Linked DNA regions of Homo sapiens. The protein of the gene in region 3 purifies or fractionates together with the protein of the main gene of each other region. This does not show direct contact. Each region holds a gene or a part of one and is shown on either strand. Other genes may lie near its edges.

Region 1 (3,500 bases), on a different chromosome or scaffold from region 3:
TGCTAGGATTACAGGCCTGAGCCACCGCGCCCAGCCTTGTTTTTATTTTTTTTTTTGAGACGGAGTCTTGCTCTGTTGCCCAGGCTGGAATGCAGTGGCACAATCTTGCCTCACTGCAACCTCTGTCCCCCAGGTTCAAGCGATTCTCCTGTCTCAGCCTCCCGAGTAGCTGGGATTAGAGGTGCACGTCAACACACCCAGCTAATTTTTGTACTTTTAGTAAAGATGGGGTTTCATCATGTTGACCAGGCTGGTCTCGAACTCCTGACCTCAAGTGATCCACCCACCTTGGCCTCTCAAAGTACTGGGATTACTGTCGTGAGCCACTGCGCCTGGCCTCTCGTTGTCTTTTATCAGTTTTACGTGCTTGACGTGTAGGTATAGAGCCTGTCTGCAAAAGAAAATTACTGTATGTGAAGTCTGATAAAGTAACTGATTGGTATCTATCTACACCCCATCCCCGCCCCAACACACACAGAAATACAGGAGGATTGAGAAATGAATTTTGAGGAGTCATGTAAAGAAAGATAGAAGGTTAAATCTAAGTTGCTTGTAGCTAAGCAGGATTTTATATTTTGGGTGCAAGAATTTAAGAAGAAAGTAATGTGTTTAAATGCTTAGAAAGGAAGGATCAGAATGTAGGAAGTGGGACCAGCAGTAGTGAAACTAGTGAGGAAAAGTTTCCCTCAGCCCATATGGGCAATTTCCCTTGGTTCCTGTGGAGCATTTGGCTACAGACACAGAAGCAAAAGCATTTAATCAAAGTGTTTAAGAACTGGGTTTTTGGCTGGGTGTGGTGGCTCACACCTGTAATGTCAGCACTTTTGGGAGGTCAAGGTAGGGGGATCACTTGAGCCCAGGAGTTTGAGACTAGCCTGAGCAACATAGGGAGGCCCTGTCTCTACAAGTAATAAAAAGCATTAGACAGGTGTGATGGCACATGCCTGTGGTCCCAGCTACTTGGGAGGCTGAGGCAGGAGAACCGTCTGAGTTTGGGGGTCATGGCTGCAGTAAGCCATGGTTGTTTCACTGCACTCCAGTCTGGGTGACAGCGTAAGACTGTCTCAAAAGAAAAAAAAAAAAAAAAAGAAAAGAAATGAGTTTTGGGGCCTGGCACGGTGGCTCAAGCACTTTAGGACGCCGAGGCGGAATTATCACTTGAGGTCAGGAGTTTGAGACCAGCCTGGACAACATAGACCCTTTCTCTACCAAAAAAAAAAGGTTTGTTTGTTGGATTATTTTTTTTTTTTGGAGACAGAGTCTTGCTCTTTTACCCAGGATGGAGTGCAGTGGCGTAGTCAAGGCTTTCTGCAGCCTCAACCTTTCAGTCTCAAGCGAGCCCCCTACTTCAGCCCCCAAGTAGCTAGGACCACAGGTGCATACCACCATGTTTGGCAAATTTTTAAAACTCTTTTTGTAGACCCTGGGTCTCACTATTTTGTCCGGGCTGTTCTTGAACTCCTGGGATTACAGGCATGAGCCAGCTTGCCCGGCCAAAAAATATTTTTAAAATTAACTGGGCATGGTGGCATGCACCTGTAGTCCTAGTTACTCAGGAGGCTGAGGCAGGAGGATTGCTTGAGCCCAGGAGTTCAAAGCTGCATGAGCTGTGATGGCACCACTGCACAACTCTTGCTCTCTTCACCACTGTGAAAAGTCTTGCTCAGTTGCTCAGGCTGGAGTCTTAAAAAAAAAAATAATAAATGGGTTTTTAAGCATTAGTTTGCTCATTCATTTATCACTGAGAGGCATTATGCTACATAATGAAAATACAAAGAAAAGTAAATCCTAGTTTTTGCTCTTGAGAAACTCAGTCTGATAGAGAAGAAAATGTATGAAAAGTTATCATATACAAACCTGTGTGAATCAATATTTTGGGAATACAGGGGGAAATCAGTGAAGGCTTCAAAAAGGAACTGACTAAATTTAAAAGGTACTAATGTCCGTCTGACCCACAGGCACCTGTTTGTGAAGTTTAACAGTGGTTATGTTTTGGAGAGAAGGCAAGGGAGTATGTTCTTGTAGCATTGCAGCAAACCACATCTATGGATGGTGGATGATTTAATCAGTCTTTGAAAAGGGTTATGGCAGCTGTTTTCAATGTGATAAAGCTTAATTGTAATCATGAAGATTATTTTGGAAAGAACCCATTTTAGTGATAATCCAACGTAAGAAGCTACTCAGAAGCAATTGAAAGGATTAGGTTGACTGGAAAATTATAAAACTGCCTAAATGTTCATATCGAGGTGATGTTTCTGGGGAGAAACACACCATTTTGTAGCCTCATGACTCATCAGTACACATGGTATTTGTCTCACTGGGGAACTCACTGTCTAAGTGGAACAAGGTTTTCCTTTTTCTTTTTGTTCTTTTTTTTTTTTGAGGTGGAGTCTCGCTGTGTCACCCAGGCTGGAGTGCAGTGGTGCAGTCTTGGCTCACTGAAACCTCTGCCTCTGGGTTCAAGCGATTTTCCTGCCTCAGCCTCCCAAGTAGCTGGGATTACAGGCGTGTGCCACCACGCCCAGCTAATTTTTGTATTTTTAATAGAGACGGGGTTTCACCATTTTGCCCAGGCTGGATTTGAACTCTACTGGCCTCAAGTGATCTGCCTCTCTTGGCCTCCCAAAGTGCTGGGATTACAGCTGTGAGCCACCATGCCCAGTGAAACAGAGTTTTTCAAGCATTCTCTCTCTCTATCTCTAGTTTTGGTTGAAAGCTGTCATTCTCTGGTGTGAACCTGGGAGGTGGAGCTTGCAGTGAGCCGAGATTGCACCATTGCCCTCCAGCCTGGGTGACAGAGCAAGACTCCGTCTCAAAAAAGAAAGCTGTCATTCTCTGGTCCCATCCCTTCATCCCTCTCCTTATACCAAGATCATTGCTTTTCATTTATTGTACTGAGCTATAATGGGTATTTTCTCTATTAAAAATATTGCTTAATATTTAAAATGAGAATCAAAGATAAAATGTTTAGTTCAAAAAAAAGGCATACTTGTCACTTTACTAAATTGTAAAATTTTTAACTTCTTTTTAATCTGTATGCAGGCAATTTTTTTTCCATCACATAAAGGTCACTGAGATACTGTGTCATTTATTTAGACCCCAAATTTTGTTTTTACAGCATGATAGTAGTATTGTTACTTTGAAAGGATTGTTCTTGATTTCTTTTTGGGGTGTTTGTGCGTATTTCAGTACTTCCAGCGGCAATGTAAGCAACAGAAAGGATGAGACAAATGCTCGAGATACTTATGTTTCATCCTTTCCTCGGGCACCAAGCACTTCTGATTCTGTGCGGTTGAAGTGTAGGGAGATGCTTGCTGCAGCTCTTCGAACAGGGGGTAAGTCCAGTGCATGTTATTTCTCAGTCCTTTGGTCACCACCCACAACCACTGCCATCTCCAACTCCATATTGCTGTTTGATGAGTGTTACCCTGTGGATAGCCCACCCACTGCTGCTTAGCTTGGGGAGAAGTTGTTGCTGATACGGGTCTGTTAAGGGGGAG
Region 2 (3,500 bases), on a different chromosome or scaffold from region 3:
ATTAAATGAGAAAGTACTGAAAGACAAGCGTAAAAAGCTGCGTGAAACCTTTGAACGTATTCTACGACTCTATGAAAAAGAGAATCCAGATATTTACAAAGAATTGAGAAAGCTAGAAGTAGAATATGAACAGAAGAGGGCTCAACTTAGCCAATATTTTGATGCTGTCAAGGTAATCAAGGTTTTTTTTTTGAGAGATAAACTAAAATATTATACAGATTGAGTATCCCTTATGCAAAGTGCTTGGGACCAGAAGTGTTTTGGATTTAGGGTTGTTGGGTTTTTTTTATATTTTGTTTTGTTTTTGTGTATATTTGCATATATTTTGGGGATGGAACCCTAGTCTAAGCATGAAATTTATGTTTCATATACACATAGCCTGAAGATAATTTTATAAATTTTGTGCATGAAACAAAACTACGACCCATCACATTAGGTCAGGTGTGGATTTTTCCACCATGGCATCATATGGGAGTCAAAAAGTTTAGGATTTTGGAGCATTTTAGATATTCAGATTAGGGATGCTCAGCCTATACTTAGATTTAAAAAGTTAATGGGAGAATGTCATGTTGAACCTCTTCCTTATAGCAGTTTCTTCTAAAACTAAACATATACCTACTGTGTGAACCTGCAAATCTAATCCTCTTTATTTAAACAGAAGAAATTAATTCAAAAACTTGGATCAGCCTAAGTGTTCACTAATAGGATAATGGATAATTAAACTGTAGCATATTTATACAATAGAATACTATTCAGCAATAAAAGGAATAATCTAATACTCAAAACAGCATGGAATAAAAAAAGAAAAATTGTGAGTAAATCTCAAAAACATGCTAAGTTTATCTCATTGTTATGATTTCATTTTTATGAAATTCTAGAATAGTCACAGATAATCTGTGCAGGAAAAAAAAATGTAGCCGTGGTTGCCTTGGGGGATGATATTAGAGATGGATTGGGAAGGAGTATGAGGTATATGCATTTGTCAAAACTTACTGAATTTGTAAATTTCGTAAATTTTACCTCAAAATAAAGATGGGAAAAAATCAAATGCTATAATTTCTGTAAAGGAGGTAATATGTCTCCCATTTTACAGATGAAGGCACAGGTTACCTTGCTTAGTCAAACTAAGCTAATACACAACAGAAATTCAACATAGGCAAGCTAATGAGCCCAACCTCCACCACTGGATATATACTATTTGTTAGTTGACATATATTATTTTTCTTTTTTTTGTTTATTTTTTGTTTTTGAGACCGAGTCTCACTCTGTTGCCCAAGCTGGAGTGCAGTGGCACCATCTTGGCTCACTGCAACCTCTGCCTCCCAGGTTCAAGCAATTCTCCTCCCTCAGCCTCCTGAGTAGCTGGGACTACAGGCACACGCCACCACAACTGGCTAATTTTTGTAGTTTTATTAGAGATGGAGTTTCACCATATTGGCCAGGCTGGTCTCAAACTCCTGAGCTTGTGATCGACCTGCGTCAGCCTCCCAAAATGCTCGGATTACAGGTGTGAGCTACCACGCCCAGCCTGACATGTATTTTTCTATCACATGTTAAATAGGGTAGTTCTGGTGCTAGATACTTGTAACAGTTGGCTTTCTCTAGACAACAGCTGTTTCGAATCATCCAAAAAGAATTACCTGATAAGAGGAGAAAAAAAACAGCTGGGTTCTGACGTTTTTAGAAGTAAAGATTTCTTTCAGTTCTTTGACAATGTGGAAGTATTGACGTAAGGTTATTTTTCTGGGGGTTTTTGGTGATATTTATGTTAGTTGGAAAGCATGTCCAAGTTACGAAACAGCTGACTTGTCATTTTTAGTGTTTAGTTAGTAGATGACTTTTTTATCATACTACTGAATGGTTCTCTGTTTCAGAATGCTCAGCATGTGGAAGTGGAGAGTATTCCTTTGCCAGATATGCCACATGCTCCTTCCAACATTTTGATCCAGGACATTCCACTTCCTGGTGCCCAGCCACCCTCTATCCTAAAGAAAACCTCAGCCTATGGGTAAGGAAGCAGTGTCACAATCAGAGAGCATTTAGTAAAGGCACAAGTTGACTGTCCAGTGCCAAAATTAATGCAGAGGGAAATAAAAGACAATATGGATGTAAACAGTGTGACATTTGATTAAATGTAAAATAAGAAATCCCTTGAAAATTGTTTAGAAGAGAAAATAAATATCTCATTACTGTTAAGTGATTACTGTGGGGGTTTTTTTGTTTTTGTTTTTTTTTTTAACAGACCTCCAACTCGGGCAGTTTCTATCCTTCCTCTTCTTGGACATGGTGTTCCACGTTTGCCCCCTGGCAGAAAACCTCCTGGCCCTCCCCCTGGTCCACCTCCTCCTCAAGTCGTGCAGATGTATGGCCGTAAAGTGGGTTTTGCCCTAGATCTTCCCCCTCGTAGGCGAGATGAAGACATGTTATATAGTCCTGAACTTGGTGAGAAGTGACTGTTCTTTTGCTTTTATAACTATCATTTTTTATGTTGGCCCTGTTTAACATATTGTTCACCACCCTCAGAACTTAGAAAGTAAATGAGAGGGTATCATGTACATAACTAATATACATACAGTTGGATAAATCATAGGATCTTCTCAAGTAAAAGCATCATACATAAGTATAGAAATGTTTATCGTGTTTTAAATTAGGCTTTTCCTGGAGATGTCACTCTTGCTGCTAATCCTTTAAGACTTGTATATCTGGTTCCCTTTTAGCTTTATTGTCATCAGACTAGAGCGTCATTGTATACATTCACTGACTGTGTATGTGTATACAAACATGATTGTTGCTAAAGGAGGAAATGGGTTTTCAAATTAGAACTCTTTTTAAAAAAATCTTAAATTACCAAAAAGAAGTGTTTAAAATTATTGGCAGAGGAAAATTTTGTTAGACTGTATGAGTAGCTATATATACAAGAATTTTTTTTTTTTTTTTTTGGTAAGAATTAAGTTGTTACAGTCTGAGTTGAATAGCATAATTTTCTGTATTTCTGGGTACCATGTAGTGGAGGGTCCAATCATACTACTTCTCCATGTTCCCTTCCCACTTTTCAGCCCAGCGAGGTCATGATGATGATGTTTCTAGCACCAGTGAAGATGATGGCTATCCTGAGGACATGGATCAAGATAAGCATGATGACAGTACTGATGACAGTGACACCGACAAATCAGATGGAGAAAGTGACGGGGATGAATTTGTGCACCGTGATAATGGTGAGAGAGACAACAATGAAGAAAAGAAGTCAGGTATGTGCAGATGAAGGATTCATGGTATTGATCAATAAAGAGAAAACAAGCTGAAGGTCCTAATTTATTAATGAATCTGTGAGAGTACTCTGAAATCTTTGGAAGTCGGGATCATAGCTGTGTTCATCTTATATATTAAAATTTTGAAAGTTTTTGACACAGTAAGTACTCAGTGGATGTTTATGAGGAAAAGCATTAAACTGTATGTAATAAAAATGTCTATGTAATAAAGTTCACTTTGGGGTAAAAGGT
Region 3 (4,124 bases):
CAAAGAAGTAAAGTCAATTATCTATGCTTTTATCATAAGAACCCTGAAAAAGAAGAGTAAAATAAACCCAAAGTTAATAAACATTTAAGCCAATAATAAAAATAATGAAAATCATGAAATAGAAAAATGAACAAACAATAGAGACAATCAGTGGTCAATTTTTCTGTACTCCATGAACAAAACTTCAGTTCAGAATGATTTTATATTTAAATATATATCCAGAATCACAAAGATCTTAGAAGAAAAAATTAGGAAAATATAGGAATAAAGTGGGAACTCTGTGGGAATAAAAATCAGAAAGTAATTGCCTACCAGGTAAACTCGGGGGAGGGCAGGCAATTGACTAAGAACAGGCAGATAAAACTTTCTGGAGTGAAGGAAATGGTGGTCTTCTTTTCGTTGGTACTTACATGGACATATATAACTGTCAAGGTTCATTGACAATGAACACTTAAGTGTACACTGAACGCTTAAGATCTGGGCCTTGTAATGCCCAGATTACATCTACTTAAAAAAACTACATCTCTATTTTTTTAAGTAGAGAAAAGTGTCTTGGGGAGTTTATGGCAGTGATGTTTGGGCAGACTGGGGCATAGGTTTCAGAAGCATTCATAGCATCTTCAGTTCAACAATTTGCTAAGAATGGTTTTGCAGCCAAAAATGTAAGATGAGTGCAAATATCTATGATTAGAGTCATTGGGCATACAACTACAAATCCCCACACTTGTATTACAGGCCATATGATTAATTCGTTATCACTAGATACCTTTCCTTCAATGAGGTTCTTCCATTAGGAACCCAGAGCTCTCCAGGGAAAAATTGCAATTGAGGTTTTGGATATATTGGGTGGAAAAGAAAGTCACCTCACATAAAACTTAGTGATTGGAGCTGTCACCATTGAAAATTTCTAAACTTTGCAAGACAGCAGTGACGTTTCAAATGACACTCTCAGAGAGTTGATAATGGGCTAAAATAGATCTCCCTCCAGGTGGATTTACTGTACAAGGACAACATTTACATTGCACTTGGAGACTTCTCCCAGTTTGGTTTAAGTTCACAGATTGCAGATCCCAGACAGCTGGTATCAACTGACCAGTGTTCTGTTAAGGCTAAAGCCAAGACTCTTTATCACACTGTGGCCTTAAGATTGGATTTCTCTTCCTGTTCCTGGGAAGAATTAGAGATATAACCTAAAGGTCACTATTATTCTGAGAAAAGGGATTCTGGAGGAGGAGGGAGCAATGAGTATGTGGCAGGAGTTCAAGGTAATAAGGGCTGAGACACAAGCCACAGAGCATAAAGCTCCAGTCCTTCCTCCAGGGATGAGGCAGTAAGGACTTGGACTCCTCTGTCCAGCTTTTAACAATCTAAGTTACGGTTAGAGCTTTCTCCTTTTCTTTCAACTACTCCTGGCAGTTGTGGGGTCATGGAATTTTTGTAAAAAATGGGGTGGAGGAAAATAAGGCATCTGCTGAGTGTATAACCATTTTACCTCTTGTTTTTAGCCCTCTTCTGGGTCACGCTAGAATCAGATCTGCTCTCCAGCATCTTCTGTTTCCTGGCAAGTGTTTCCTGCTACTTTGGATTGGCCACGATGGGCTGGAGCTGCCTTGTGACAGGAGCAGGAGGGCTTCTGGGTCAGAGGATCGTCCGCCTGTTGGTGGAAGAGAAGGAACTGAAGGAGATCAGGGCCTTGGACAAGGCCTTCAGACCAGAATTGAGAGAGGAATTTTCTAGTAAGTAAACTTGAGTCATGGGTCTGTGGCTCCATCTTAAACTCTGCATGGGTGTGGGGAGGTTGACCTTGTCTAGCAAGTTAAGGAAAGTTGTAGCCAAATGAAAGCCAGTCACACATCTAAAGTCATCAGAAAGGAAATAGAATAAAATGGTATAGTGTGAAAGATACTGGATGGGGTGTCCAGAGACTGGATTCTGGCCCTGACGCAGAACTTGAGAGGCAGCCATGTCAGCCTCAAGGCCCCTTTTCTTCTCTTCTAGAGAGTCACACATGAGTTCTCCTTCTTGTCTACAACTCTTATGTTCTGAAGCTTTTTGTCTTGGCGATTGCTGTGCGACATTCACAAAGGACATCATTTACCTGGAGACCTCACCAGTGGGTCCTGCCTGTCTAGACTGCCCCAGGCTTCATTTCATTTTATAGCTTCCTTAGTATCTTTAGTGAGGGCAAAATAAAAGGAAGTGAAGGTACGGATGTGTGTGTAATTGTGTGTGTGTGTCAGACAGAGAAAGAAAATGAGGGGGAAAGAAGGTCAGAGACAGAGAATGAGAAAGACAGAGAATGAATGAGAAAGATAGTGTGAGGGAGAGCATCAGCAAGAGAGAGAGAGTGAAAGTGAGAGAGATCATCAGTGAGAGAGAGAGAAAGAGAGAAAGAGAGCATGCACAAGTGCACGGCACAGAGCAGAGACAGAGTAAAAGGCAGTATGAGGCCAACATGCCTCATTTATATTTCTCATATATAGCCTTTTTAAAAAAAAACCATTTGTATCTGTTGTTCAATACTCCAAATAAATTGACTGCAGAATTTGCTGTAGTAACTCTTTGTGCAAATAACCCTGTGAGGAAGGTAGAAAAGGGGTCACCTCCAACTGGACAATGAACCCATCAAGTTCCAGAAACATAAAGTTACTTGCCAAGAACAGCTGATTAATGTGTAGCAGAGCTCAGACCAGAGCTTCATTCCAGAAGCTTCATCACTTGACCCCCGGGCTAATCCTTGGTGGGTCTTCAGTCTCTCCCTTTGCCTCTCTGTGTGCCCCAAACCAATTCCATGTTTTCCTCCCAACCCAGGGGACTGGGGGAACTATGTATCTTCTTCATGCAGGTTCTGGCTGCCTAGAAGGTCCTGCCCTGTTCACACAGAAGCTCCCCTTGACACTCTCCTCTTCTTTCACTCTTCTCTGACCTCTTTAAATGTCCAATTTCCTCCACTCTCTGTTCTAATAGTGAACAGATATTAACACATGACTGATATTAAATGTTTGTAATCCTTATGTCTCAGCAATATTTACAATCTAACATCTGATACCAGGAAAAAGCAATGCTCAGTCTAGAGGAAGAGTTCTGCTATGGTGAAAATGCAGGGAGCATAATGGATGGGCAGGGCCTGTATGAAGATAAAAACAGAGAATCCTTTCAGTGTTCTTTCTGTGCCAGGCACTGTGCTAAAGGTTTTGCATGTGCTGACTCATTTACTTCCCATAACAACCCTATGAGATGGGTAATACTATTATCCTCCTTTTTTATAGATGAGGAGACAGACACAGAGAGGTTAATCAACTTGTCGAAGGTCCCAAGTTAGATTACGGCAAAGCTGGATTTGAATCCAGGCAGTCTAGTGCAGCTTCTGTGCTCTTAAGTAGTAGTTTGTCTAGCAGCTTCTCTGAGCCTCCCTCCAGCCCAACACACAACACAAAAGCAACTGAATTTAGTCTACATGAAACACTTGCCAAGTCCACAGTGCCTTGGAGAAGGAGGGAGCTAAGACTCCATCAAAAATTGCGCTTTTCTGGTCTCTCTAGATCCATGGAAACTCACCGGGGAAGAGTCATTTTCTATCGGCTTTGGACTTCTGCTATGAAATGGCAATTCCTTTGAGCCAGTCTGTCTAAAGTCGGCAGCAAAGGAGAAGCAGATGAAGGGAGTAGAAAAGGTAGAGGTGGAAATACAACCAGAGAAAATTCCACTCTCGGGCTGACACCCACCTCCTCCCCAGCAGCCTCTTCCCTGCCTCCACCATTCCAGGGCCTTCTTGGAGTTGCCTGACAGTGGGAAGGGGCTGGGAGTAGACAAAACAAGGCAGAGGCATCAGAAGAGCAAATGGTCCCACCTGTATCCCAGGAAGGAATTTCTCCAGCCTTGAATTTTTCATTCTGAATTTCGCTCTCACTGTTCTTTGGCCTTTGTGGGCATTTTCAGTTAAACTGGCTTATTCTTACTCTTTCTCAGAAAAGTTGATTCTAAACAGCTATTCCTGCACCTGGGGTACAGGGTACAAAAATGGCAGGTGGAATGGGCAGGTTTGAGCCTTCACTAGAAAATTGACTTTAGATCTGTCCCTTAACCTCTCTGAGCCTCAGTTTCCTCACCAATAAAGTGGGACT
Region 4 (2,692 bases), on a different chromosome or scaffold from region 3:
CACTTTGGGAGGCTGAGGCGGGTGGATTATTTGAGGTCAGGAGTTCAAAACCAGCCCGGCCGACATGGCGAAACCCCATCTCTAGTAAAAATACAAAAATCAGCTGGCGTGGTGGCGGGCATCTGTAATCCCAGCTACTCGGGAGGCTGAGGCAGGAAAATCACTTGAACCCAGGAGGTGGAGGTTGCAGGGAGCTGAGATCATGCCACTGCATTCCAGCCTGGGTGACAGAATGAGACTCTGACTCATACACAAACAAGAAATCAGCAGGGGCAAAATGTGCATGAGGCAGAGTACAGGAAAGAAAAGGTGAAAATATCCAGTTTTCCTCTCCCAGTGGAATCATGTGGACAGGGCTTCATTCTCCCAGCAGCAATGTGTGACAACATGCATGGTGTACTGCCAACCAGGGAAGCTCTTCTGAGCCTGGGTATCCAGGATTTTTATTGTGGCTCAGAACTAGCTAACCACCTGTGTGGCTGACCTCAGTCTTCAGCCCCTCTAGAGGTCCACCTGATGCTGCATGGCCCAAGACCCCCACCATAAATTACGTTGTTACTACCTGGTGTGGCCCAAGGCCGTCCTCAGGCAAACAAAGACAGTCTTATCAAGGCAGGACACTCCAAGGGCTTAGAGGGCATATTCCAGGAGCTGGACAAAGGCCAGATCTTTCCTTGGACCAGGTTAACCCATCATGCATAGGATGACACCATCTCAACCTGCCACCTTACAATCAGGAGAAGCTGTGGCTGGGCGCAGTGGCTCATGCCTATAATCCCAGCACTTTGGGAGGCCGAGCAGATCACTTGAGGCCAGGAGTTCGAGACCAACCTGGCCAACATGGTGAAACACTGTCTCTCCTAAAAATACAAAAATTAGCCAGGCATGGTGGCATATGCCTGTAATCCCAGCTACTTGGGAGGCTGAGGTGGGAGAAACACTTGAAACAAGGAGGTGGAGGTTGCAGTGAGCCGAGGTTGTGCCACTGCACTCCAGCCTGGGCAACAGAGTGAGATTCCATCTCAAAAGGAAAAGAAAAGAGAGAAGCTGGGATGGGAGCTGGTGCCAGGGCAGGGGGGTGTCTGGGCCAGAGTTATGAAGACTTGAGCCATGCAGGCACCTCCCGGTAATGACAGCTGCTCCCTCCAGCCCCACCAAGGCCAGCCTGTATGGAGCCATCCTCTTCACCCTCCAGCAGACCCGCTGGCTCCCAGTGTCCAAAGCCAGCCTCATCTTCATCTTCACCTTGTTCATGGTGTCCTGTAAGGTAAGCCTTTCTCTTCTTGCAGCATTCTTGCCTTGACCAATGCCACCCTGCCACCTCCAGGTTGGGAGTGGGGAAATTGGACACTCCCAGCCTTATGTGGCTGGGACAGGCAGCCCAGAGAGGGGAGATGCTTGCCAGTAGGTCACTGGGAAGAGAGTTTAAAAGGCAGTGTCCAGCAGCCAGGACACAGATGAGAGGAACAGGCCTTCTGTGTAAAGGACCCAGCCTGAGCCAGGGTCAAGGTGGGCCCACTCTCTTGGGTACAGAGACCAGAGGGACAAGAAGCTGAAATGGCAGCATCAGGTACCCAGGAACTCAGTTGGACCAGGAATACTTCTAGTCTGACAGTCATGCCTTGAGTTGACATCACCCCACCCAGGAGGGGTCTTCAGGGGCTGGGCTCTCTCCCTCTGCATGAAGATCTTAGCTCAGGGCTGTGTCTTCCCTGGGTGAGGACTCCAGGGCTGTCAAAAGGGAGTGAGCATGTCTTCCTGCATTAGGCGAGAAGGGAGAGGCAAGCAGATGGCTGGGATCCTGTCCTGCTATGTTTGTAGCTCTACCCCAGGCCAAATGTCTTAGTCCATTCAGGCTGCTGTATAACAGAATGCAGTACCATAGACTGGGTGGCTTAGAAACAACAGAAATTTATTCCTGGGCAGGCACGGGGGCTCATGCCAACACTTCAGGGGGCCAAGGCAGGCAGATCACTTGAGGCCAGGAGTTCAAGACCAGCCTGGGCAACATGGCGAAACCCCATCTCTCCTAAAAATACAAAAATTAGCCAGGCGTGGGGTCACATGCCTGTAATCCCAGCTACTCGGGAGGCTGAGGCAGGAGAATCGCTTGAACCCGGGAGGTGGAGGTTGCAGTGAGCTAAGATCGCACCACCGCACTCCAGCCTGGGCAACAAATTGAGACTCTGTCTCAAAAACAAACAAACAGGCAAACAAAATACAAATACAAAAATTAACCAGGCGTGGTGGCGCATGCCTGTAATCCCAGCTACTTGGATGGCTGAGGCATGAGAATTGCTTGAACCCAGGAGGTGGAGGCTGCAGTGACCTGAGATCATGCCATTGCACTCCAGTTTGGGCAACAGAGTGAGACCCTGTCTCCAAAAAAAGGAAAAGGAAGAAATGTATTTCTTACAGTTCTGGAGGCTGGGAAGTCCAAGATCAGGGTACTAGCCTGGTCGGGTTCTGGTGAGGGCCCTCTTTACTGGTTGCAGATAGGCAGCATCTCACTGTGTCCTCGCATGGTGGAAGGGACTGGTTAGCTCTCCTGGGCCTCTTTATAAGGGCACTAATGTCTTTCCTGAGGGCTCCACCCTTATGATCTAATTACCCCTCCAAAGGCCTTACCTCCTAATACCATCACCTTTGTGATAGGTTTCAACATATGAATTTGGGAGGACACAGACCTTCA
Region 5 (3,500 bases), on a different chromosome or scaffold from region 3:
TGAGCCCAGGAGTTCAAGGCTGCAGGGAGCCGTGACTGTACCACTGCATTCCAGCCTGGGCAAAGTCAAATAAATCAAAATGAACAAAAGGCTGAGCACGGTGGCTCATGCCTGTAATCCCAGCACTTTGGGAGGCCAAGGCGGGCGGATCACCTGAGGTCGGCAGTTTGAGACCAGCCTGGCCAACATGGTGAATGAAACCCTGTCTCTACTAAAAAAAAAAAATTAGCTGGGCATGGTGGTGGGCACCTGTAATTCCAGCTACTCAGGAGGCTGAGGCAGGAGAATCAATTAAACCCAGGAGGTGGAGGTTGCAGTGAGCCGAGATCACGCCATTGCACTCTAGCCTGGGCGCAAGAGCGAAACTCCAAAAACCAACAACAAAAAAAGGTATCAGTATAAATCCCTGATTTACTACTCATTTATTTTCCCCTGTTCCTGTTACAGGTAGTCCAGGGGATCCTGCTCATCTCAGCTGTGCCAGCACCCTGGGGTTGAGGAACTGCCTGTGAGTAAATCAGTATCACTCTGCACCTGTCTGTTTGAAAACAGGGTTTGAAAATGGTGGAGAGTCACGAGTGACTCTTGATTTTTGAGGGAAACAGTGTATCCTACTTTCCTGTTCTTTGTTTCTTTTAAACCTTTATCTTTCCATTTTGAAAATGATTGTCACATGCCTCAGTGAATCTATAGACAGTATAGAAACATTCCTAACCTCAGTGCCCAGTTGCACTTGGAGAGCTGGGGACAGAAGGCTTCCTGTCCCCTAACAGGAATTAAATGGAATTTAATTGTTGGACTCCCAGTTGGAGTGGGCACTGGCAACTGTGCCCTCAAAGTGCCCAGTGTCAGTATTTTGATGTACAGCAAGTCTCATTTAATGTCTGTAGGTTCTTGGAAACTGCGACTTTTTTTTTTTCTTTTTTTTTTTTTTTTTTTTTGAGACAGAGCCTTGCTCTGTCACCCAGACTGGAGTGCAGTGGCACATGCTTGGCTCACTGCAACCTCCGCCTCCCAGGTTCAAGTGATTCTCCTGCTTCAACCTCCCGAGTAGCTGGGATTGCAGGCATGCCTCACTGCGCCTGGCTAATTTTTTTTTTTTTTTTTTTGAGACGGAGTCTCGCTCTGTCACCCAGGCTGGAGTGCAGTGGCGCAATATCAGCTCACTGCAAGATCCACCTCCCGGGTTCATGCCATCCTCCTGCCTCAGCCTCCCAAGTAGCTGGAACTACAGGCGCCCGCCACCACGCCCGGCTAATTTTTTGTATTTTTAGTAGAGATGGGGTTTCACCGTGTTAGCCAGGATGGTCTCAATCTCCTGACCTCGTGATCCGCCCGCCATGGCCTCCCAAAGTGCTGGGATTACAGGCATGAGCCACCGCGTCCGGCCGCACCTGGCTAATTTTTGTATTTTTATTAGAGACGGGGTTTCACCATGTTGGCCAGGCTGGTCTTGAACTCCTGACCTCCCGTGATCTGCCTGCCTTAGCCTCCCAAAGTGCTGGGATTATAGGTGTGAGCCACCATGCCTGGCAGAAACTGCAACTTTAAGGTCCACGAATAACGTTTTATTATAACTTTGGATGAGAAAAGAAATTGGTTTTCTTATGTCTTTTTCCTTAAGGTTGCATTTTCTTTTTTTTTTTTATTTTTATTTTTTTTGAGACAGAGTCTCGCGCTGTCACCAAGCTGGAATGCAGTGGCGTGATCTCTGCCCACTGCAATCTCCACCTCCCGGGTTCAAGCAGTTATCTGCCTCAGCCTCCCAAGTAGCTGGGATTACAGGCGCGCACACCACACCCAGCTAATTTTTTTTTTTTTTTTTTTTTTTTGAGACCGAGTTTTGTTCTTGTCACCTAGGCTAGAGTGCAGTGGTGCAATCTCGGCTCACTGCAACCTCTGCCTCCCGGGTTCAAGCGATTCTCCTGCCTCAGCCTCCCTAGTAGCTGGGATTAGAGACGCCGCCACCACACCCAGCTAATTTTTGCATTTTTAGTACAAAAGTACAAAATTTTCACCACATTAGCCAGGCTCATCTCAAACTCCTGACCTCAGATGATCCACCTACCTCGGCCTCCCAAAGTGCTGGGATTACAGGTGTGAGCCACTGCGCCTAGCTGCTCCCGTTATTTTCTTTAGTGAGTTCTCCAGCAGTTGTTCCTCCCTGGGGACCAGTTCCCCCAAACCTCGTCAGTCTGGACCTTCCTTCTAGATGAGCTGAACCATTTTACTTCTAAAACAGTCTTTTTGGGATTGTATCTGAAGTGTCATTAAACCAGTTGGGAAGGAATATTACTTTTTTTTTTTTTTTTGAGACAGGATCTCATTCTGTTCATTGCCCAGGCTAGAGTGCAGTGGTGCAATCATGGCTCACTGCAGCTTTGATCTCCCAGGCTCAAGCCATTCTCCCACCTTAGCCTCCTGAGTAGCTGGGACTACAGGCATTACCAACATGCCTTGCTAAATTTTTTTCTTTTTGGTATTTTTTGTAGAGACAGGTTCTCACTATGTTGTCCAGGCTGCTCTTGAACTCCTGGACTCAAGCAGTCCTCCTGCCTTTGGCCTCCCAAAGTGCTGGGATTACAGGTGTGAGCCACTGCACCCGGCCTGTTTTCTTTGTATAGGCCACATGCATTGCATTTTAGATAATTCCCAGATGTTTATTATTTTCATTAATTCTTTTCATTATCTTTTCTAAGTGATCATTGCTGTCCCGTAAGTTGCTAAGTTGTACAATTTTCTTGTATCTGGCCCCTTTCCTGTTATTTGTTCAGCTCTTGTAGCAGCCCAGGTTTAGTTTATGGCTGTGATCTTAGTACATAGTAATCATCTGCCTCTTCTTTCCCAGGGCTTCTGCTTCTGAGGTGGTTTCATTTCTTAGCTCAGTAGCCAGATCTGTGTCAGAACAGCTGTAGTCAGTCATGCGGTATCACAATAGCAGAAAATACAGGATCTAGTGTTTGTGACATATGATGTTAGCTTTTGGGTTTAAGTAATCTTTGTTCTGTCTGTTACTCTTTTTATTAGGAATGGATGTTGAATTTGTCAAGCAACTTTTTAGCATTTAAATTTCATACTAAAACATAAATGCTGGCCGGGCACGGTGGCTCACACCTGTAATCCCAACACTTTTGGAGGCTGAGTCGGGAAGATCACGAGGTCAAGAGTTCAAGACCAGCCTAGCCAACATGGTGAAACCCCATCTCTAATAAAAATACAAAAATCAGCTGGGCATGGTGGTATGTTCTTGTAATCCCAGCTACTCAGGAGGCTGAGGCAGGAGAATTGCTTGAACCGGGACCCGGGAGGTGGCAGTTGCAGTGAGCCAAGATGGCGCCACTGTACTCCAGCCTGGGCTAACAACAAAACATAAAAGCTGTACTTTATTCACGTAACTTTTTTTAAAGTTCCCAATTTTGAACATCTACTTAAAAATTTAAACAATGAGGACTGTACAGCTGTTTTGATGGACTTGTCTACTTATCAAGAATTATGGATGA
Region 6 (3,500 bases), on a different chromosome or scaffold from region 3:
GGCCAAGCCCAGAAGTGGTCCGCAAGATGGGAGACAAGGTGGAGGCCCGGGCCATCGCCATTGCTGCGGGTGAATATAACGGGCAAGCAAGGGGTGGCCCCGCAGCTCCTGGAGAGGGTCCAGCAGGGAGGGGTGGCAGGGATTCCCGCCTGTTACAGAGACTCCCCCACACCTTTCTCCCAACAGGTGTTCCCGTTGTCCCTGGCACAGATGCCCCCATCACGTCCCTGCATGAGGCCCACGAGTTCTCCAACACCTACGGCTTCCCCATCATCTTCAAGGCGGCCTATGGGGGTGGAGGGCGTGGCATGAGGGTGGTGCACAGCTACGAGGTGAGTGAAGATGCCCAGGGCTGGGAGCAGGGCAGGGCAGCCTGCCGTGGGGGCAGGGGCGGACCACTCAAGGGATCTGGAAAGTGGGTGGGGTTCATGGCAGGGGAGAGGTAGCGCTGTGGGGTCTGAGGTCTGGCTGGCCCCTGCCCGCCCTCGCAGGAGCTGGAGGAGAATTACACCCGGGCCTACTCAGAGGCTCTGGCCGCCTTTGGGAATGGGGCGCTGTTTGTGGAGAAGTTCATCGAGAAGCCACGGCACATCGAGGTGCAGATCTTGGGTGAGTGGTCCTGACGCCCCGCCTGGGGCAGCTGGAGGCGGGAGCTGAGAGGCCCAGTCCTGGTGCCGTCACAGTGGCTGGCCTTGGGGACAGCCCTGGGGCCTGTCGGGCGCTTTTCCAGAGGACTCTGGAAAGTGGGCTCTAGGGGCCGAGCTGGCAGTTGGTCCTCACAGCCTTGGTGATGCTGGTGTCTCTCCTGGCAGCCTCTGTACCGCTGGCAGCCGGCACTGACTGGCGACAGTGGTTATGTGGGGGTGATGGGGCATTTAGGAGGCGTGTAGATTCCAGTAAAAGCTAAGCCCAGTTTACCTCCCTCCCCAGGGGACCAGTATGGGAACATCCTGCACCTGTACGAGCGAGACTGCTCCATCCAGCGGCGGCACCAGAAGGTGGTCGAGATTGCCCCCGCCGCCCACCTGGACCCGCAGCTTCGGACTCGGCTCACCAGCGACTCTGTGAAACTCGCTAAACAGGTGAAGGGTGGGCTTCCCGTGTTGGGACAGGAGCCTGTGCTCACAGGCCGGCAGGCCTCACAGTGGGGCGCTGGTTGGGGAAGGGGACCCTGAGTCCCCTTCTGGGGACTGGGGATGGGGAGAAGAGGGTGAAGGACTCTCCTGGGGGCCAGAAGTGGGTTTGTGGCATCCTTCCCATGTGCAGTTGAGGCACCTGGCCCAGAGGCCAAGCTTAGAGTCCAGGATGGCTGAGAAGAGGGAGGGAAGGAGCCCCAGCCGCCTCCTCAGCCCTGCTGCTACACAGACCTGGCTTCTCTGTGGCATCAGCTCATCCCTGTCATCAGGAGAATGAGATTCCGTGGATTCTGTCAAGATTGAGGACCATTATGAAGGCAGTCCTCCCTCATGTGCTTCTGTCTCCTACATCATGTTTATTATGATCTGTTTCCTTGCTCTGCACCCTCTGCCCATCTCTGCTTTTCTGGGACCTCTGGTCGGGGGGTCCTGGGCTGTGGAGGAGGCTGAGGTGGCAAGCTATCTCCCCACAGTGACCTGCCCCAGGACTGGCCTGGAGAGCACCTGCTGTGGCCAGGTGTGCAGCGGGGTCCTGCCCCCTCTTCTTCCCTGGCCTATAGGCAGCAGAGGATGCGTCACCTCCCCATGCCGAAGGCCGGGGTGTGCACTCTGCAGCAAGGCCTCAGCCACAGCTAATGCGAGGCATCGACCAGGGTCGCGTTTAAGTCAGGTCTTATTTACTGGCTTATACTATTTCACATTCCAGAACAGGTTTAAGGGAGGTGATTCAGTCTGGTTTATCGTTTTGGTGAGACCAAAAGTGAAACTGGAATTAGGGCTGAAATTTGAGTTAGAGTCATTATCTGTTGGTACCTCTCAAATGAATTTCTTTGGGTGGTGGTGGCCAGAGGTGACTGCGCAGTAGACTAGAAGGGGACTTTCTGAAAACACCTCCAAGCAGAAGCAGCGGCTGGGAGAGGCCTGGGTCTCCGTGTCTGGGTGGATGACACAGCCTTGGCGGGCAAGCCCAGGAGGCAGCAGGGCAAGGTGCCGAGCCTGGGATGGGTGGGGGCTTCTGCCCATGTCTCGTCCCAGATAAGCTGGGTGCAGCCATCTGTGGCTCCGGGAACCCTGGAGCCTAGTGGACTACTTGGGGGACGTGTCCAGGCAGGAGCATGACCTGGGCCCTGGGGTCTGTCTGCCATCTGTGGGGGCAGGGTTTGCCACAGGCCATTCTTTTACGGAACCAACCCAATGGGTGGGACGGAATCCCTGTCCTGAGTCCAGTGAGTTTGCCCAGGCCCTGCCTGTGCCCTCCCCTGCTCACGTGGCCGCCCCCACAGGTGGGCTACGAGAACGCAGGCACCGTGGAGTTCCTGGTGGACAGGCACGGCAAGCACTACTTCATCGAGGTCAACTCCCGCCTGCAGGTGGAGCACACGGTCACAGAGGAGATCACCGAGTGAGTGTGGGCGGGCAGGCGGGGCGGGAGGCGCGGCTTCTAGGATTTGCATAAAGTACAGGCGAAGTGGCTCCTGGGGCCAGCCAGGGGGCTTGCTCACTCCCCACATTGGTGGAGAGCAATGGGGATCCAGGTACTTAGTGTTTTAAAAGTCATTATTCTAAAAGCATTACGTGGTTATTATAAAAATCAGCACAAAGGAGCAAATAAAAATGACTGACAGCCCTCCTCTCTGTCAGGACGCTGCCGATTGCTCAGGCCCAGGTGCTCCCATCTGTCAGAGGAGTAAAGCAAGGCTCAGAGACATTTGGAGAGTTGCTCGGGGTCACACAGCTGGCGCTGGAACCCAGGCATCTCCGGCTGTCTTTGGTTTGCTCCTTTCCCGGTTTACCTGTTTTACTAGAGACATAGTTTGATGCAATAGAGATGTTTTATATAGAATTTTTATTCTACTTTTCAAATTATTTAATATTTGTTGAAGGCATTTCCCCAGGCCATAATTCTGTCTGAATACTTTTAGTGGCTGCGTACTATTCCGTCTTGTGTGTATTTCTTAACTTACATAGTCCTCGATTGTTAGGCAATTAGTTTGTGTGTCTGGCTTTGGTGGTTATTAAGCGTGTCACTTATCATCTGTGTGCCTGAATGTTTGGCTTCAGCTCTGAAGAGTTCTGAGGGTAAACCCTTCAACAGGATTATCTGATTGAAGGATAAGTAGCATCCCTCGGAACAGCCCTCTAGAGAGGTGGCACTAGCGTGCTCCCTGCAGGCACTGAGGATGACATTTTCAAAATCCGCCTGGTTTCTAAATGACAGTCATGATGGCCCTCACCCTTCAAGGTCTCTACTATGAGCCATGTAATTTCTTGACGCTGCTTTGGGCCAGCCCATCTCACTGTGGAGCATCCCTGACCCCAGTTCTGCCCCCAGCCCCAACCCCACCTGAGACTGAGGATGCTGTC
Region 7 (3,500 bases), on a different chromosome or scaffold from region 3:
ACTCTTACCTTCTGAATATATGTGCCAAATAATAAGAATGCCATCAGTATCAACAGAGATAATGTGGTCTCCAAAGGGTTGCAAGAAATGGATTTCTGCCTTATGACCCTTAAAGGTATGTACTATCTAAAACATCGAAGTTTAAAAGAATTTCATATTATTACTCAGTCATCATGTCATATTATTCATATTATCCCAAAAACATGCTAATCCTGAGATGCTTCTGTTAAGAAATGTACCCCAACTTTTGATTATTCAAGGTTAGGATGAACACATAAATATTAAGGGACCAGGCATGTTCATCTGCTCCCTCAGCCAGTTCAACAATAAGGAAGTAAACTGTCCATTAAGAACAAAGAAATGAGACCTCTGAGGCTCTGCCTTCCATCTTGGGTTAGAGAGGAGGCATGCACACACACCTAGTTCCCTCACCCAATTCAATCAGTGCAACTACATATATCCTAGCGAGATGGTATATTCCAGAAGGCTGATCTCTAAAGACTCCATCACCAACTGGCTTTCAGATGAGATGGGAAAGGGGGATATAGGGTCTTCTTCCCCATACCCTTCTGCTTTGACAGAGATCCTTACAGTAGCTGATCCCTCCATAAGTATAGCCCCTTCTCCATGGTTTCAGTTCTCACTAGATTCCAGTAACACTGTTTCCTCTCCTTGGCCCTTTGGCCTTAGGGGTGGTAACAACTTCCTACAGTTGACAGTGTCTGACGCCTCCCCACCCCTATTTTGTTCCCCTAACCCTGACCACACCTGTGCATAAAGGTCCTTTATTAAAGTCTCCACATCTGAACCACATATAGGTTATACATATAGGATAAAGTCTCCTCATGTAAATCACATATATCTCCCTGGGAAAACTATAAACAACAATACAAAAATGAACATTTTTTCCAATTCTAAAAATCTGAACACCTTCCATTAAAGAACTCTACAGATAAGTTACCTTCCTCTGCCACAGGAAGTGATGATGAAAGACTGTGGGAACCACCTCACTCCAAGTCCCTGACAAGTACAGTGATACTATCATTTGGCTATCTTTGTACCCCCATTCCTACATTTCCTTTCATTCTAGACCATTAAGGCCAGGTCACTTCTCAAGCTAGTTGTTCCAGGACAAATTCAGAAACCAACTGGTAGATTTAGACCAGAAAAGATCTTTCCTTAGCAGTGGAGAAAACATAGAATCTAGCTTTCTCTAAACAGCGAACAGGCATCTGATTTTTAGAAAAAGAGTTATAAGCTAAGTTATACATAATAAATAACCAATCCACATAAAGTGGTGGTGCAAATATGAATTTTCTAGGAAAGTATTTTAAAACTACACTTAATAATACACATTATGTCCTATCTCAACAAATATACAAAATAGAAAACTCCTGAGATGGGAACTAACGGCATAAAAAATTTTGAAGAAGGTCTCCAAGTAATTTTGATATTCATCTCTGGCAAAGAAACTGAAGTAAAGCACCAGTTTTAAGTAAGCCTTTTCTGAAAATTTATCTTCCTCCAGAAAACTGAATATACATTAGAAAAAAAAGAATACTGTATAGTTCCAGAGTGTGCTGGGTAAAGAATGACAAAATTAAAGTTCCCTCCACTATCATGACAAACAAATACTGACTGACAAACAAGTAGTTTAGCGATACCAACCTCTTTATTACGGGCAAATGCAGAGAAAACATTTCCATAAGCAGCAAAGACTAATCTGCCATCAGCTGCCATACAGCAGATATCCTGTGGAACAGAATTACCTAGCAGAAAATACAAAATGAAAGAAACAGGGATTTTTAAGATGTTAAAGAGAAACCTCAAGTATACATATAACATTTTTCATGGCTATAATTTAAAAAAATATATAAATAAAGATCAAAGTTGAGAATCAGTGTATAAAATTTTAACTAAAATATTTTAGATATCTAATAGTAACTATCAAACTAAGGATAGGAAATCACCTTGTCCTTCCCTAAGAGAATGTCTAGGATTTGCAGAAATAAAAACATAATCCTAGAGAAATGAAAACAAGCTTTTTGAGGTTATTTGGAAAAAACTGTCATTTGAAACACAAAGCTCTGACAGATAGTCATCCAGTCTTCACGTGAACATCTTTTTTTTTTTCTTTTTTTTGAGAGACGGAGTCTTGCTGTGTCACTCAGGCTGGAGTGCAGTGATGCAATCTTGGCACACTGCAACATCCGCCTCCCAGGTTTAACTGATTCTCCTGCCTCAGCCTCCCAAGTAGCTGGGATTATAGGAGTGCACCACCACACCCGGCTAATTTTTGTATTTTTAGAAGAGACAGGGTTTTGCCATGTTAGACAGGCTGGTCTTGAACTCCTGACCTCAGGTGATCTGCCCACCTCGGCCTTCCAAAGTGCTGGGATTACAGGCGTGAGCCACATGCCTAACCCATGTGAGTATCTTCTGGAACATCAAGTTCACTAATAACTCCAGAAAAATTTTAAAAGTAACTCAAAATCTAAATCTCTAACTCTACCCTTTGGACCAACCCAAAAATATTACATATGGTATTCTATATGCCTATTCCTAAAACATTTAAAGACAATATTGTTTCTACAGTCTTCTCCAAGGGAAATATGCCTATCAATCTTTAGCATTTCTCACGTGACATATGATTCTTCTCTCAGTATCCTGGTCACACTGACCTTTTCATTTCCTCTTTTGGGGCAGGAGGGTTAGTAGACACAGGATTGTTGTACTTTTCATGCTGCAAATTCCATATTAGTATTTGTTTGCATAACCCTGTTTTATAAGTTTATCATTCACTTTTGTATTCAACTTAAGTTCCAATGCCTTTCTTCTGCCTTCTAATCTATTATTAAAATATAAGTTTAATACACATACACATTACAGTCCTTGTAGGTCTTCTGTTTCTCTCACAAGAACCATATTTGATGGTAAAACAAGTACCTCTCTGCCCTGAGAAATGTTTTATTCTATTAGATAGTTTAAAAAAAAACCCTTCCATTGGAAAGAAATACCAAAATGTGAGAAAAGGGAAAACTTCTCCTTACAGTAGAAGGAATGATGGCAAAAGAAAATCACTATAGGCTGACTATGCTTTATCTGAAATGTTTGAGACCAGAAGTGTTTCAGATTCCGGATTTTTTTGGATTTTGGACTATATGTATAACCAGGTGAATGTTCCTAATCTGAAAATCTGAAATCGGAAATGTTCCAATGAATATTTCCCTGTTAACGTCATGTTGGCTCTCAAAAAGTTTCAGACTTAGGAGCATTTTGGGTTTCAAATTTTTGGATTAAGGATAATCAACATGCATTTGGCAACCATCATACTAATAACTGATTCAGGCAAGTATCATCATAAAATATAAAAGCAGCAGGTAATAACTTTGAAGAGTACTAAGATATTTACATAGTCCCAGTGCATACTACCAAAAGATACTTATTCGTTACAAATGACAAAACACTAACTTAAAAATAGAGCCTCCTAACCAATCACT

Evidence for each region.
Region 1: the proteins of HSD3B2 (region 3) and TCEA1 purify together in Homo sapiens (affinity purification with mass spectrometry; one large-scale study listed by BioGRID and IntAct). This does not show direct contact.
Region 2: the proteins of HSD3B2 (region 3) and WBP11 purify together in Homo sapiens (affinity purification with mass spectrometry; one large-scale study listed by BioGRID and IntAct). This does not show direct contact.
Region 4: the proteins of HSD3B2 (region 3) and TMEM38A purify together in Homo sapiens (affinity purification with mass spectrometry; 2 studies listed by BioGRID and IntAct, with this or other methods). This does not show direct contact.
Region 5: the proteins of HSD3B2 (region 3) and LETM1 purify together in Homo sapiens (affinity purification with mass spectrometry; one large-scale study listed by BioGRID and IntAct). This does not show direct contact.
Region 6: the proteins of HSD3B2 (region 3) and PC purify together in Homo sapiens (affinity purification with mass spectrometry; 2 studies listed by BioGRID and IntAct, with this or other methods). This does not show direct contact.
Region 7: the proteins of HSD3B2 (region 3) and WDR36 purify together in Homo sapiens (affinity purification with mass spectrometry; one large-scale study listed by BioGRID and IntAct). This does not show direct contact.

Annotation. Positions count from the first base shown.
Region 1 is NC_000008.11:53,987,949-53,991,448, reverse strand, and holds part of TCEA1 (transcription elongation factor A protein 1), read left to right. Parts: intron 1-3,189; coding exon 3,190-3,335; intron 3,336-3,500. Other genes in the region: LYPLA1-TCEA1 readthrough, read left to right, coding at 3,190-3,335.
Region 2 is NC_000012.12:14,793,479-14,796,978, reverse strand, and holds part of WBP11 (WW domain-binding protein 11), read left to right. Parts: coding exon 1-172; intron 173-1,874; coding exon 1,875-2,008; intron 2,009-2,242; coding exon 2,243-2,442; intron 2,443-3,056; coding exon 3,057-3,248; intron 3,249-3,500. UniProt on the Homo sapiens protein: Activates pre-mRNA splicing. May inhibit PP1 phosphatase activity.
Region 3 is NC_000001.11:119,413,826-119,417,949, forward strand, and holds the start of HSD3B2 (3 beta-hydroxysteroid dehydrogenase/Delta 5-->4-isomerase type 2), read left to right. Parts: upstream 1-1,324; 5' UTR 1,325-1,377; intron 1,378-1,505; 5' UTR 1,506-1,594; coding exon 1,595-1,736; intron 1,737-4,124. UniProt on the Homo sapiens protein: 3-beta-HSD is a bifunctional enzyme, that catalyzes the oxidative conversion of Delta(5)-ene-3-beta-hydroxy steroid, and the oxidative conversion of ketosteroids.
Region 4 is NC_000019.10:16,685,139-16,687,830, forward strand, and holds part of TMEM38A (trimeric intracellular cation channel type A), read left to right. Parts: intron 1-1,149; coding exon 1,150-1,267; intron 1,268-2,692. UniProt on the Homo sapiens protein: Intracellular monovalent cation channel required for maintenance of rapid intracellular calcium release. Acts as a potassium counter-ion channel that functions in synchronization with calcium release from intracellular stores.
Region 5 is NC_000004.12:1,846,157-1,849,656, reverse strand, and holds part of LETM1 (mitochondrial proton/calcium exchanger protein precursor), read left to right. Parts: intron 1-447; coding exon 448-508; intron 509-3,500. UniProt on the Homo sapiens protein: Plays an important role in maintenance of mitochondrial morphology and in mediating either calcium or potassium/proton antiport. Mediates proton-dependent calcium efflux from mitochondrion.
Region 6 is NC_000011.10:66,867,884-66,871,383, reverse strand, and holds part of PC (pyruvate carboxylase, mitochondrial precursor), read left to right. Parts: coding exon 1-69; intron 70-186; coding exon 187-332; intron 333-491; coding exon 492-609; intron 610-930; coding exon 931-1,082; intron 1,083-2,419; coding exon 2,420-2,538; intron 2,539-3,500. UniProt on the Homo sapiens protein: Pyruvate carboxylase catalyzes a 2-step reaction, involving the ATP-dependent carboxylation of the covalently attached biotin in the first step and the transfer of the carboxyl group to pyruvate in the second.
Region 7 is NC_000005.10:111,095,348-111,098,847, reverse strand, and holds part of WDR36 (WD repeat-containing protein 36), read right to left. Parts: intron 1,770-3,500; coding exon 1,669-1,769; intron 127-1,668; coding exon 9-126; intron 1-8. UniProt on the Homo sapiens protein: Part of the small subunit (SSU) processome, first precursor of the small eukaryotic ribosomal subunit.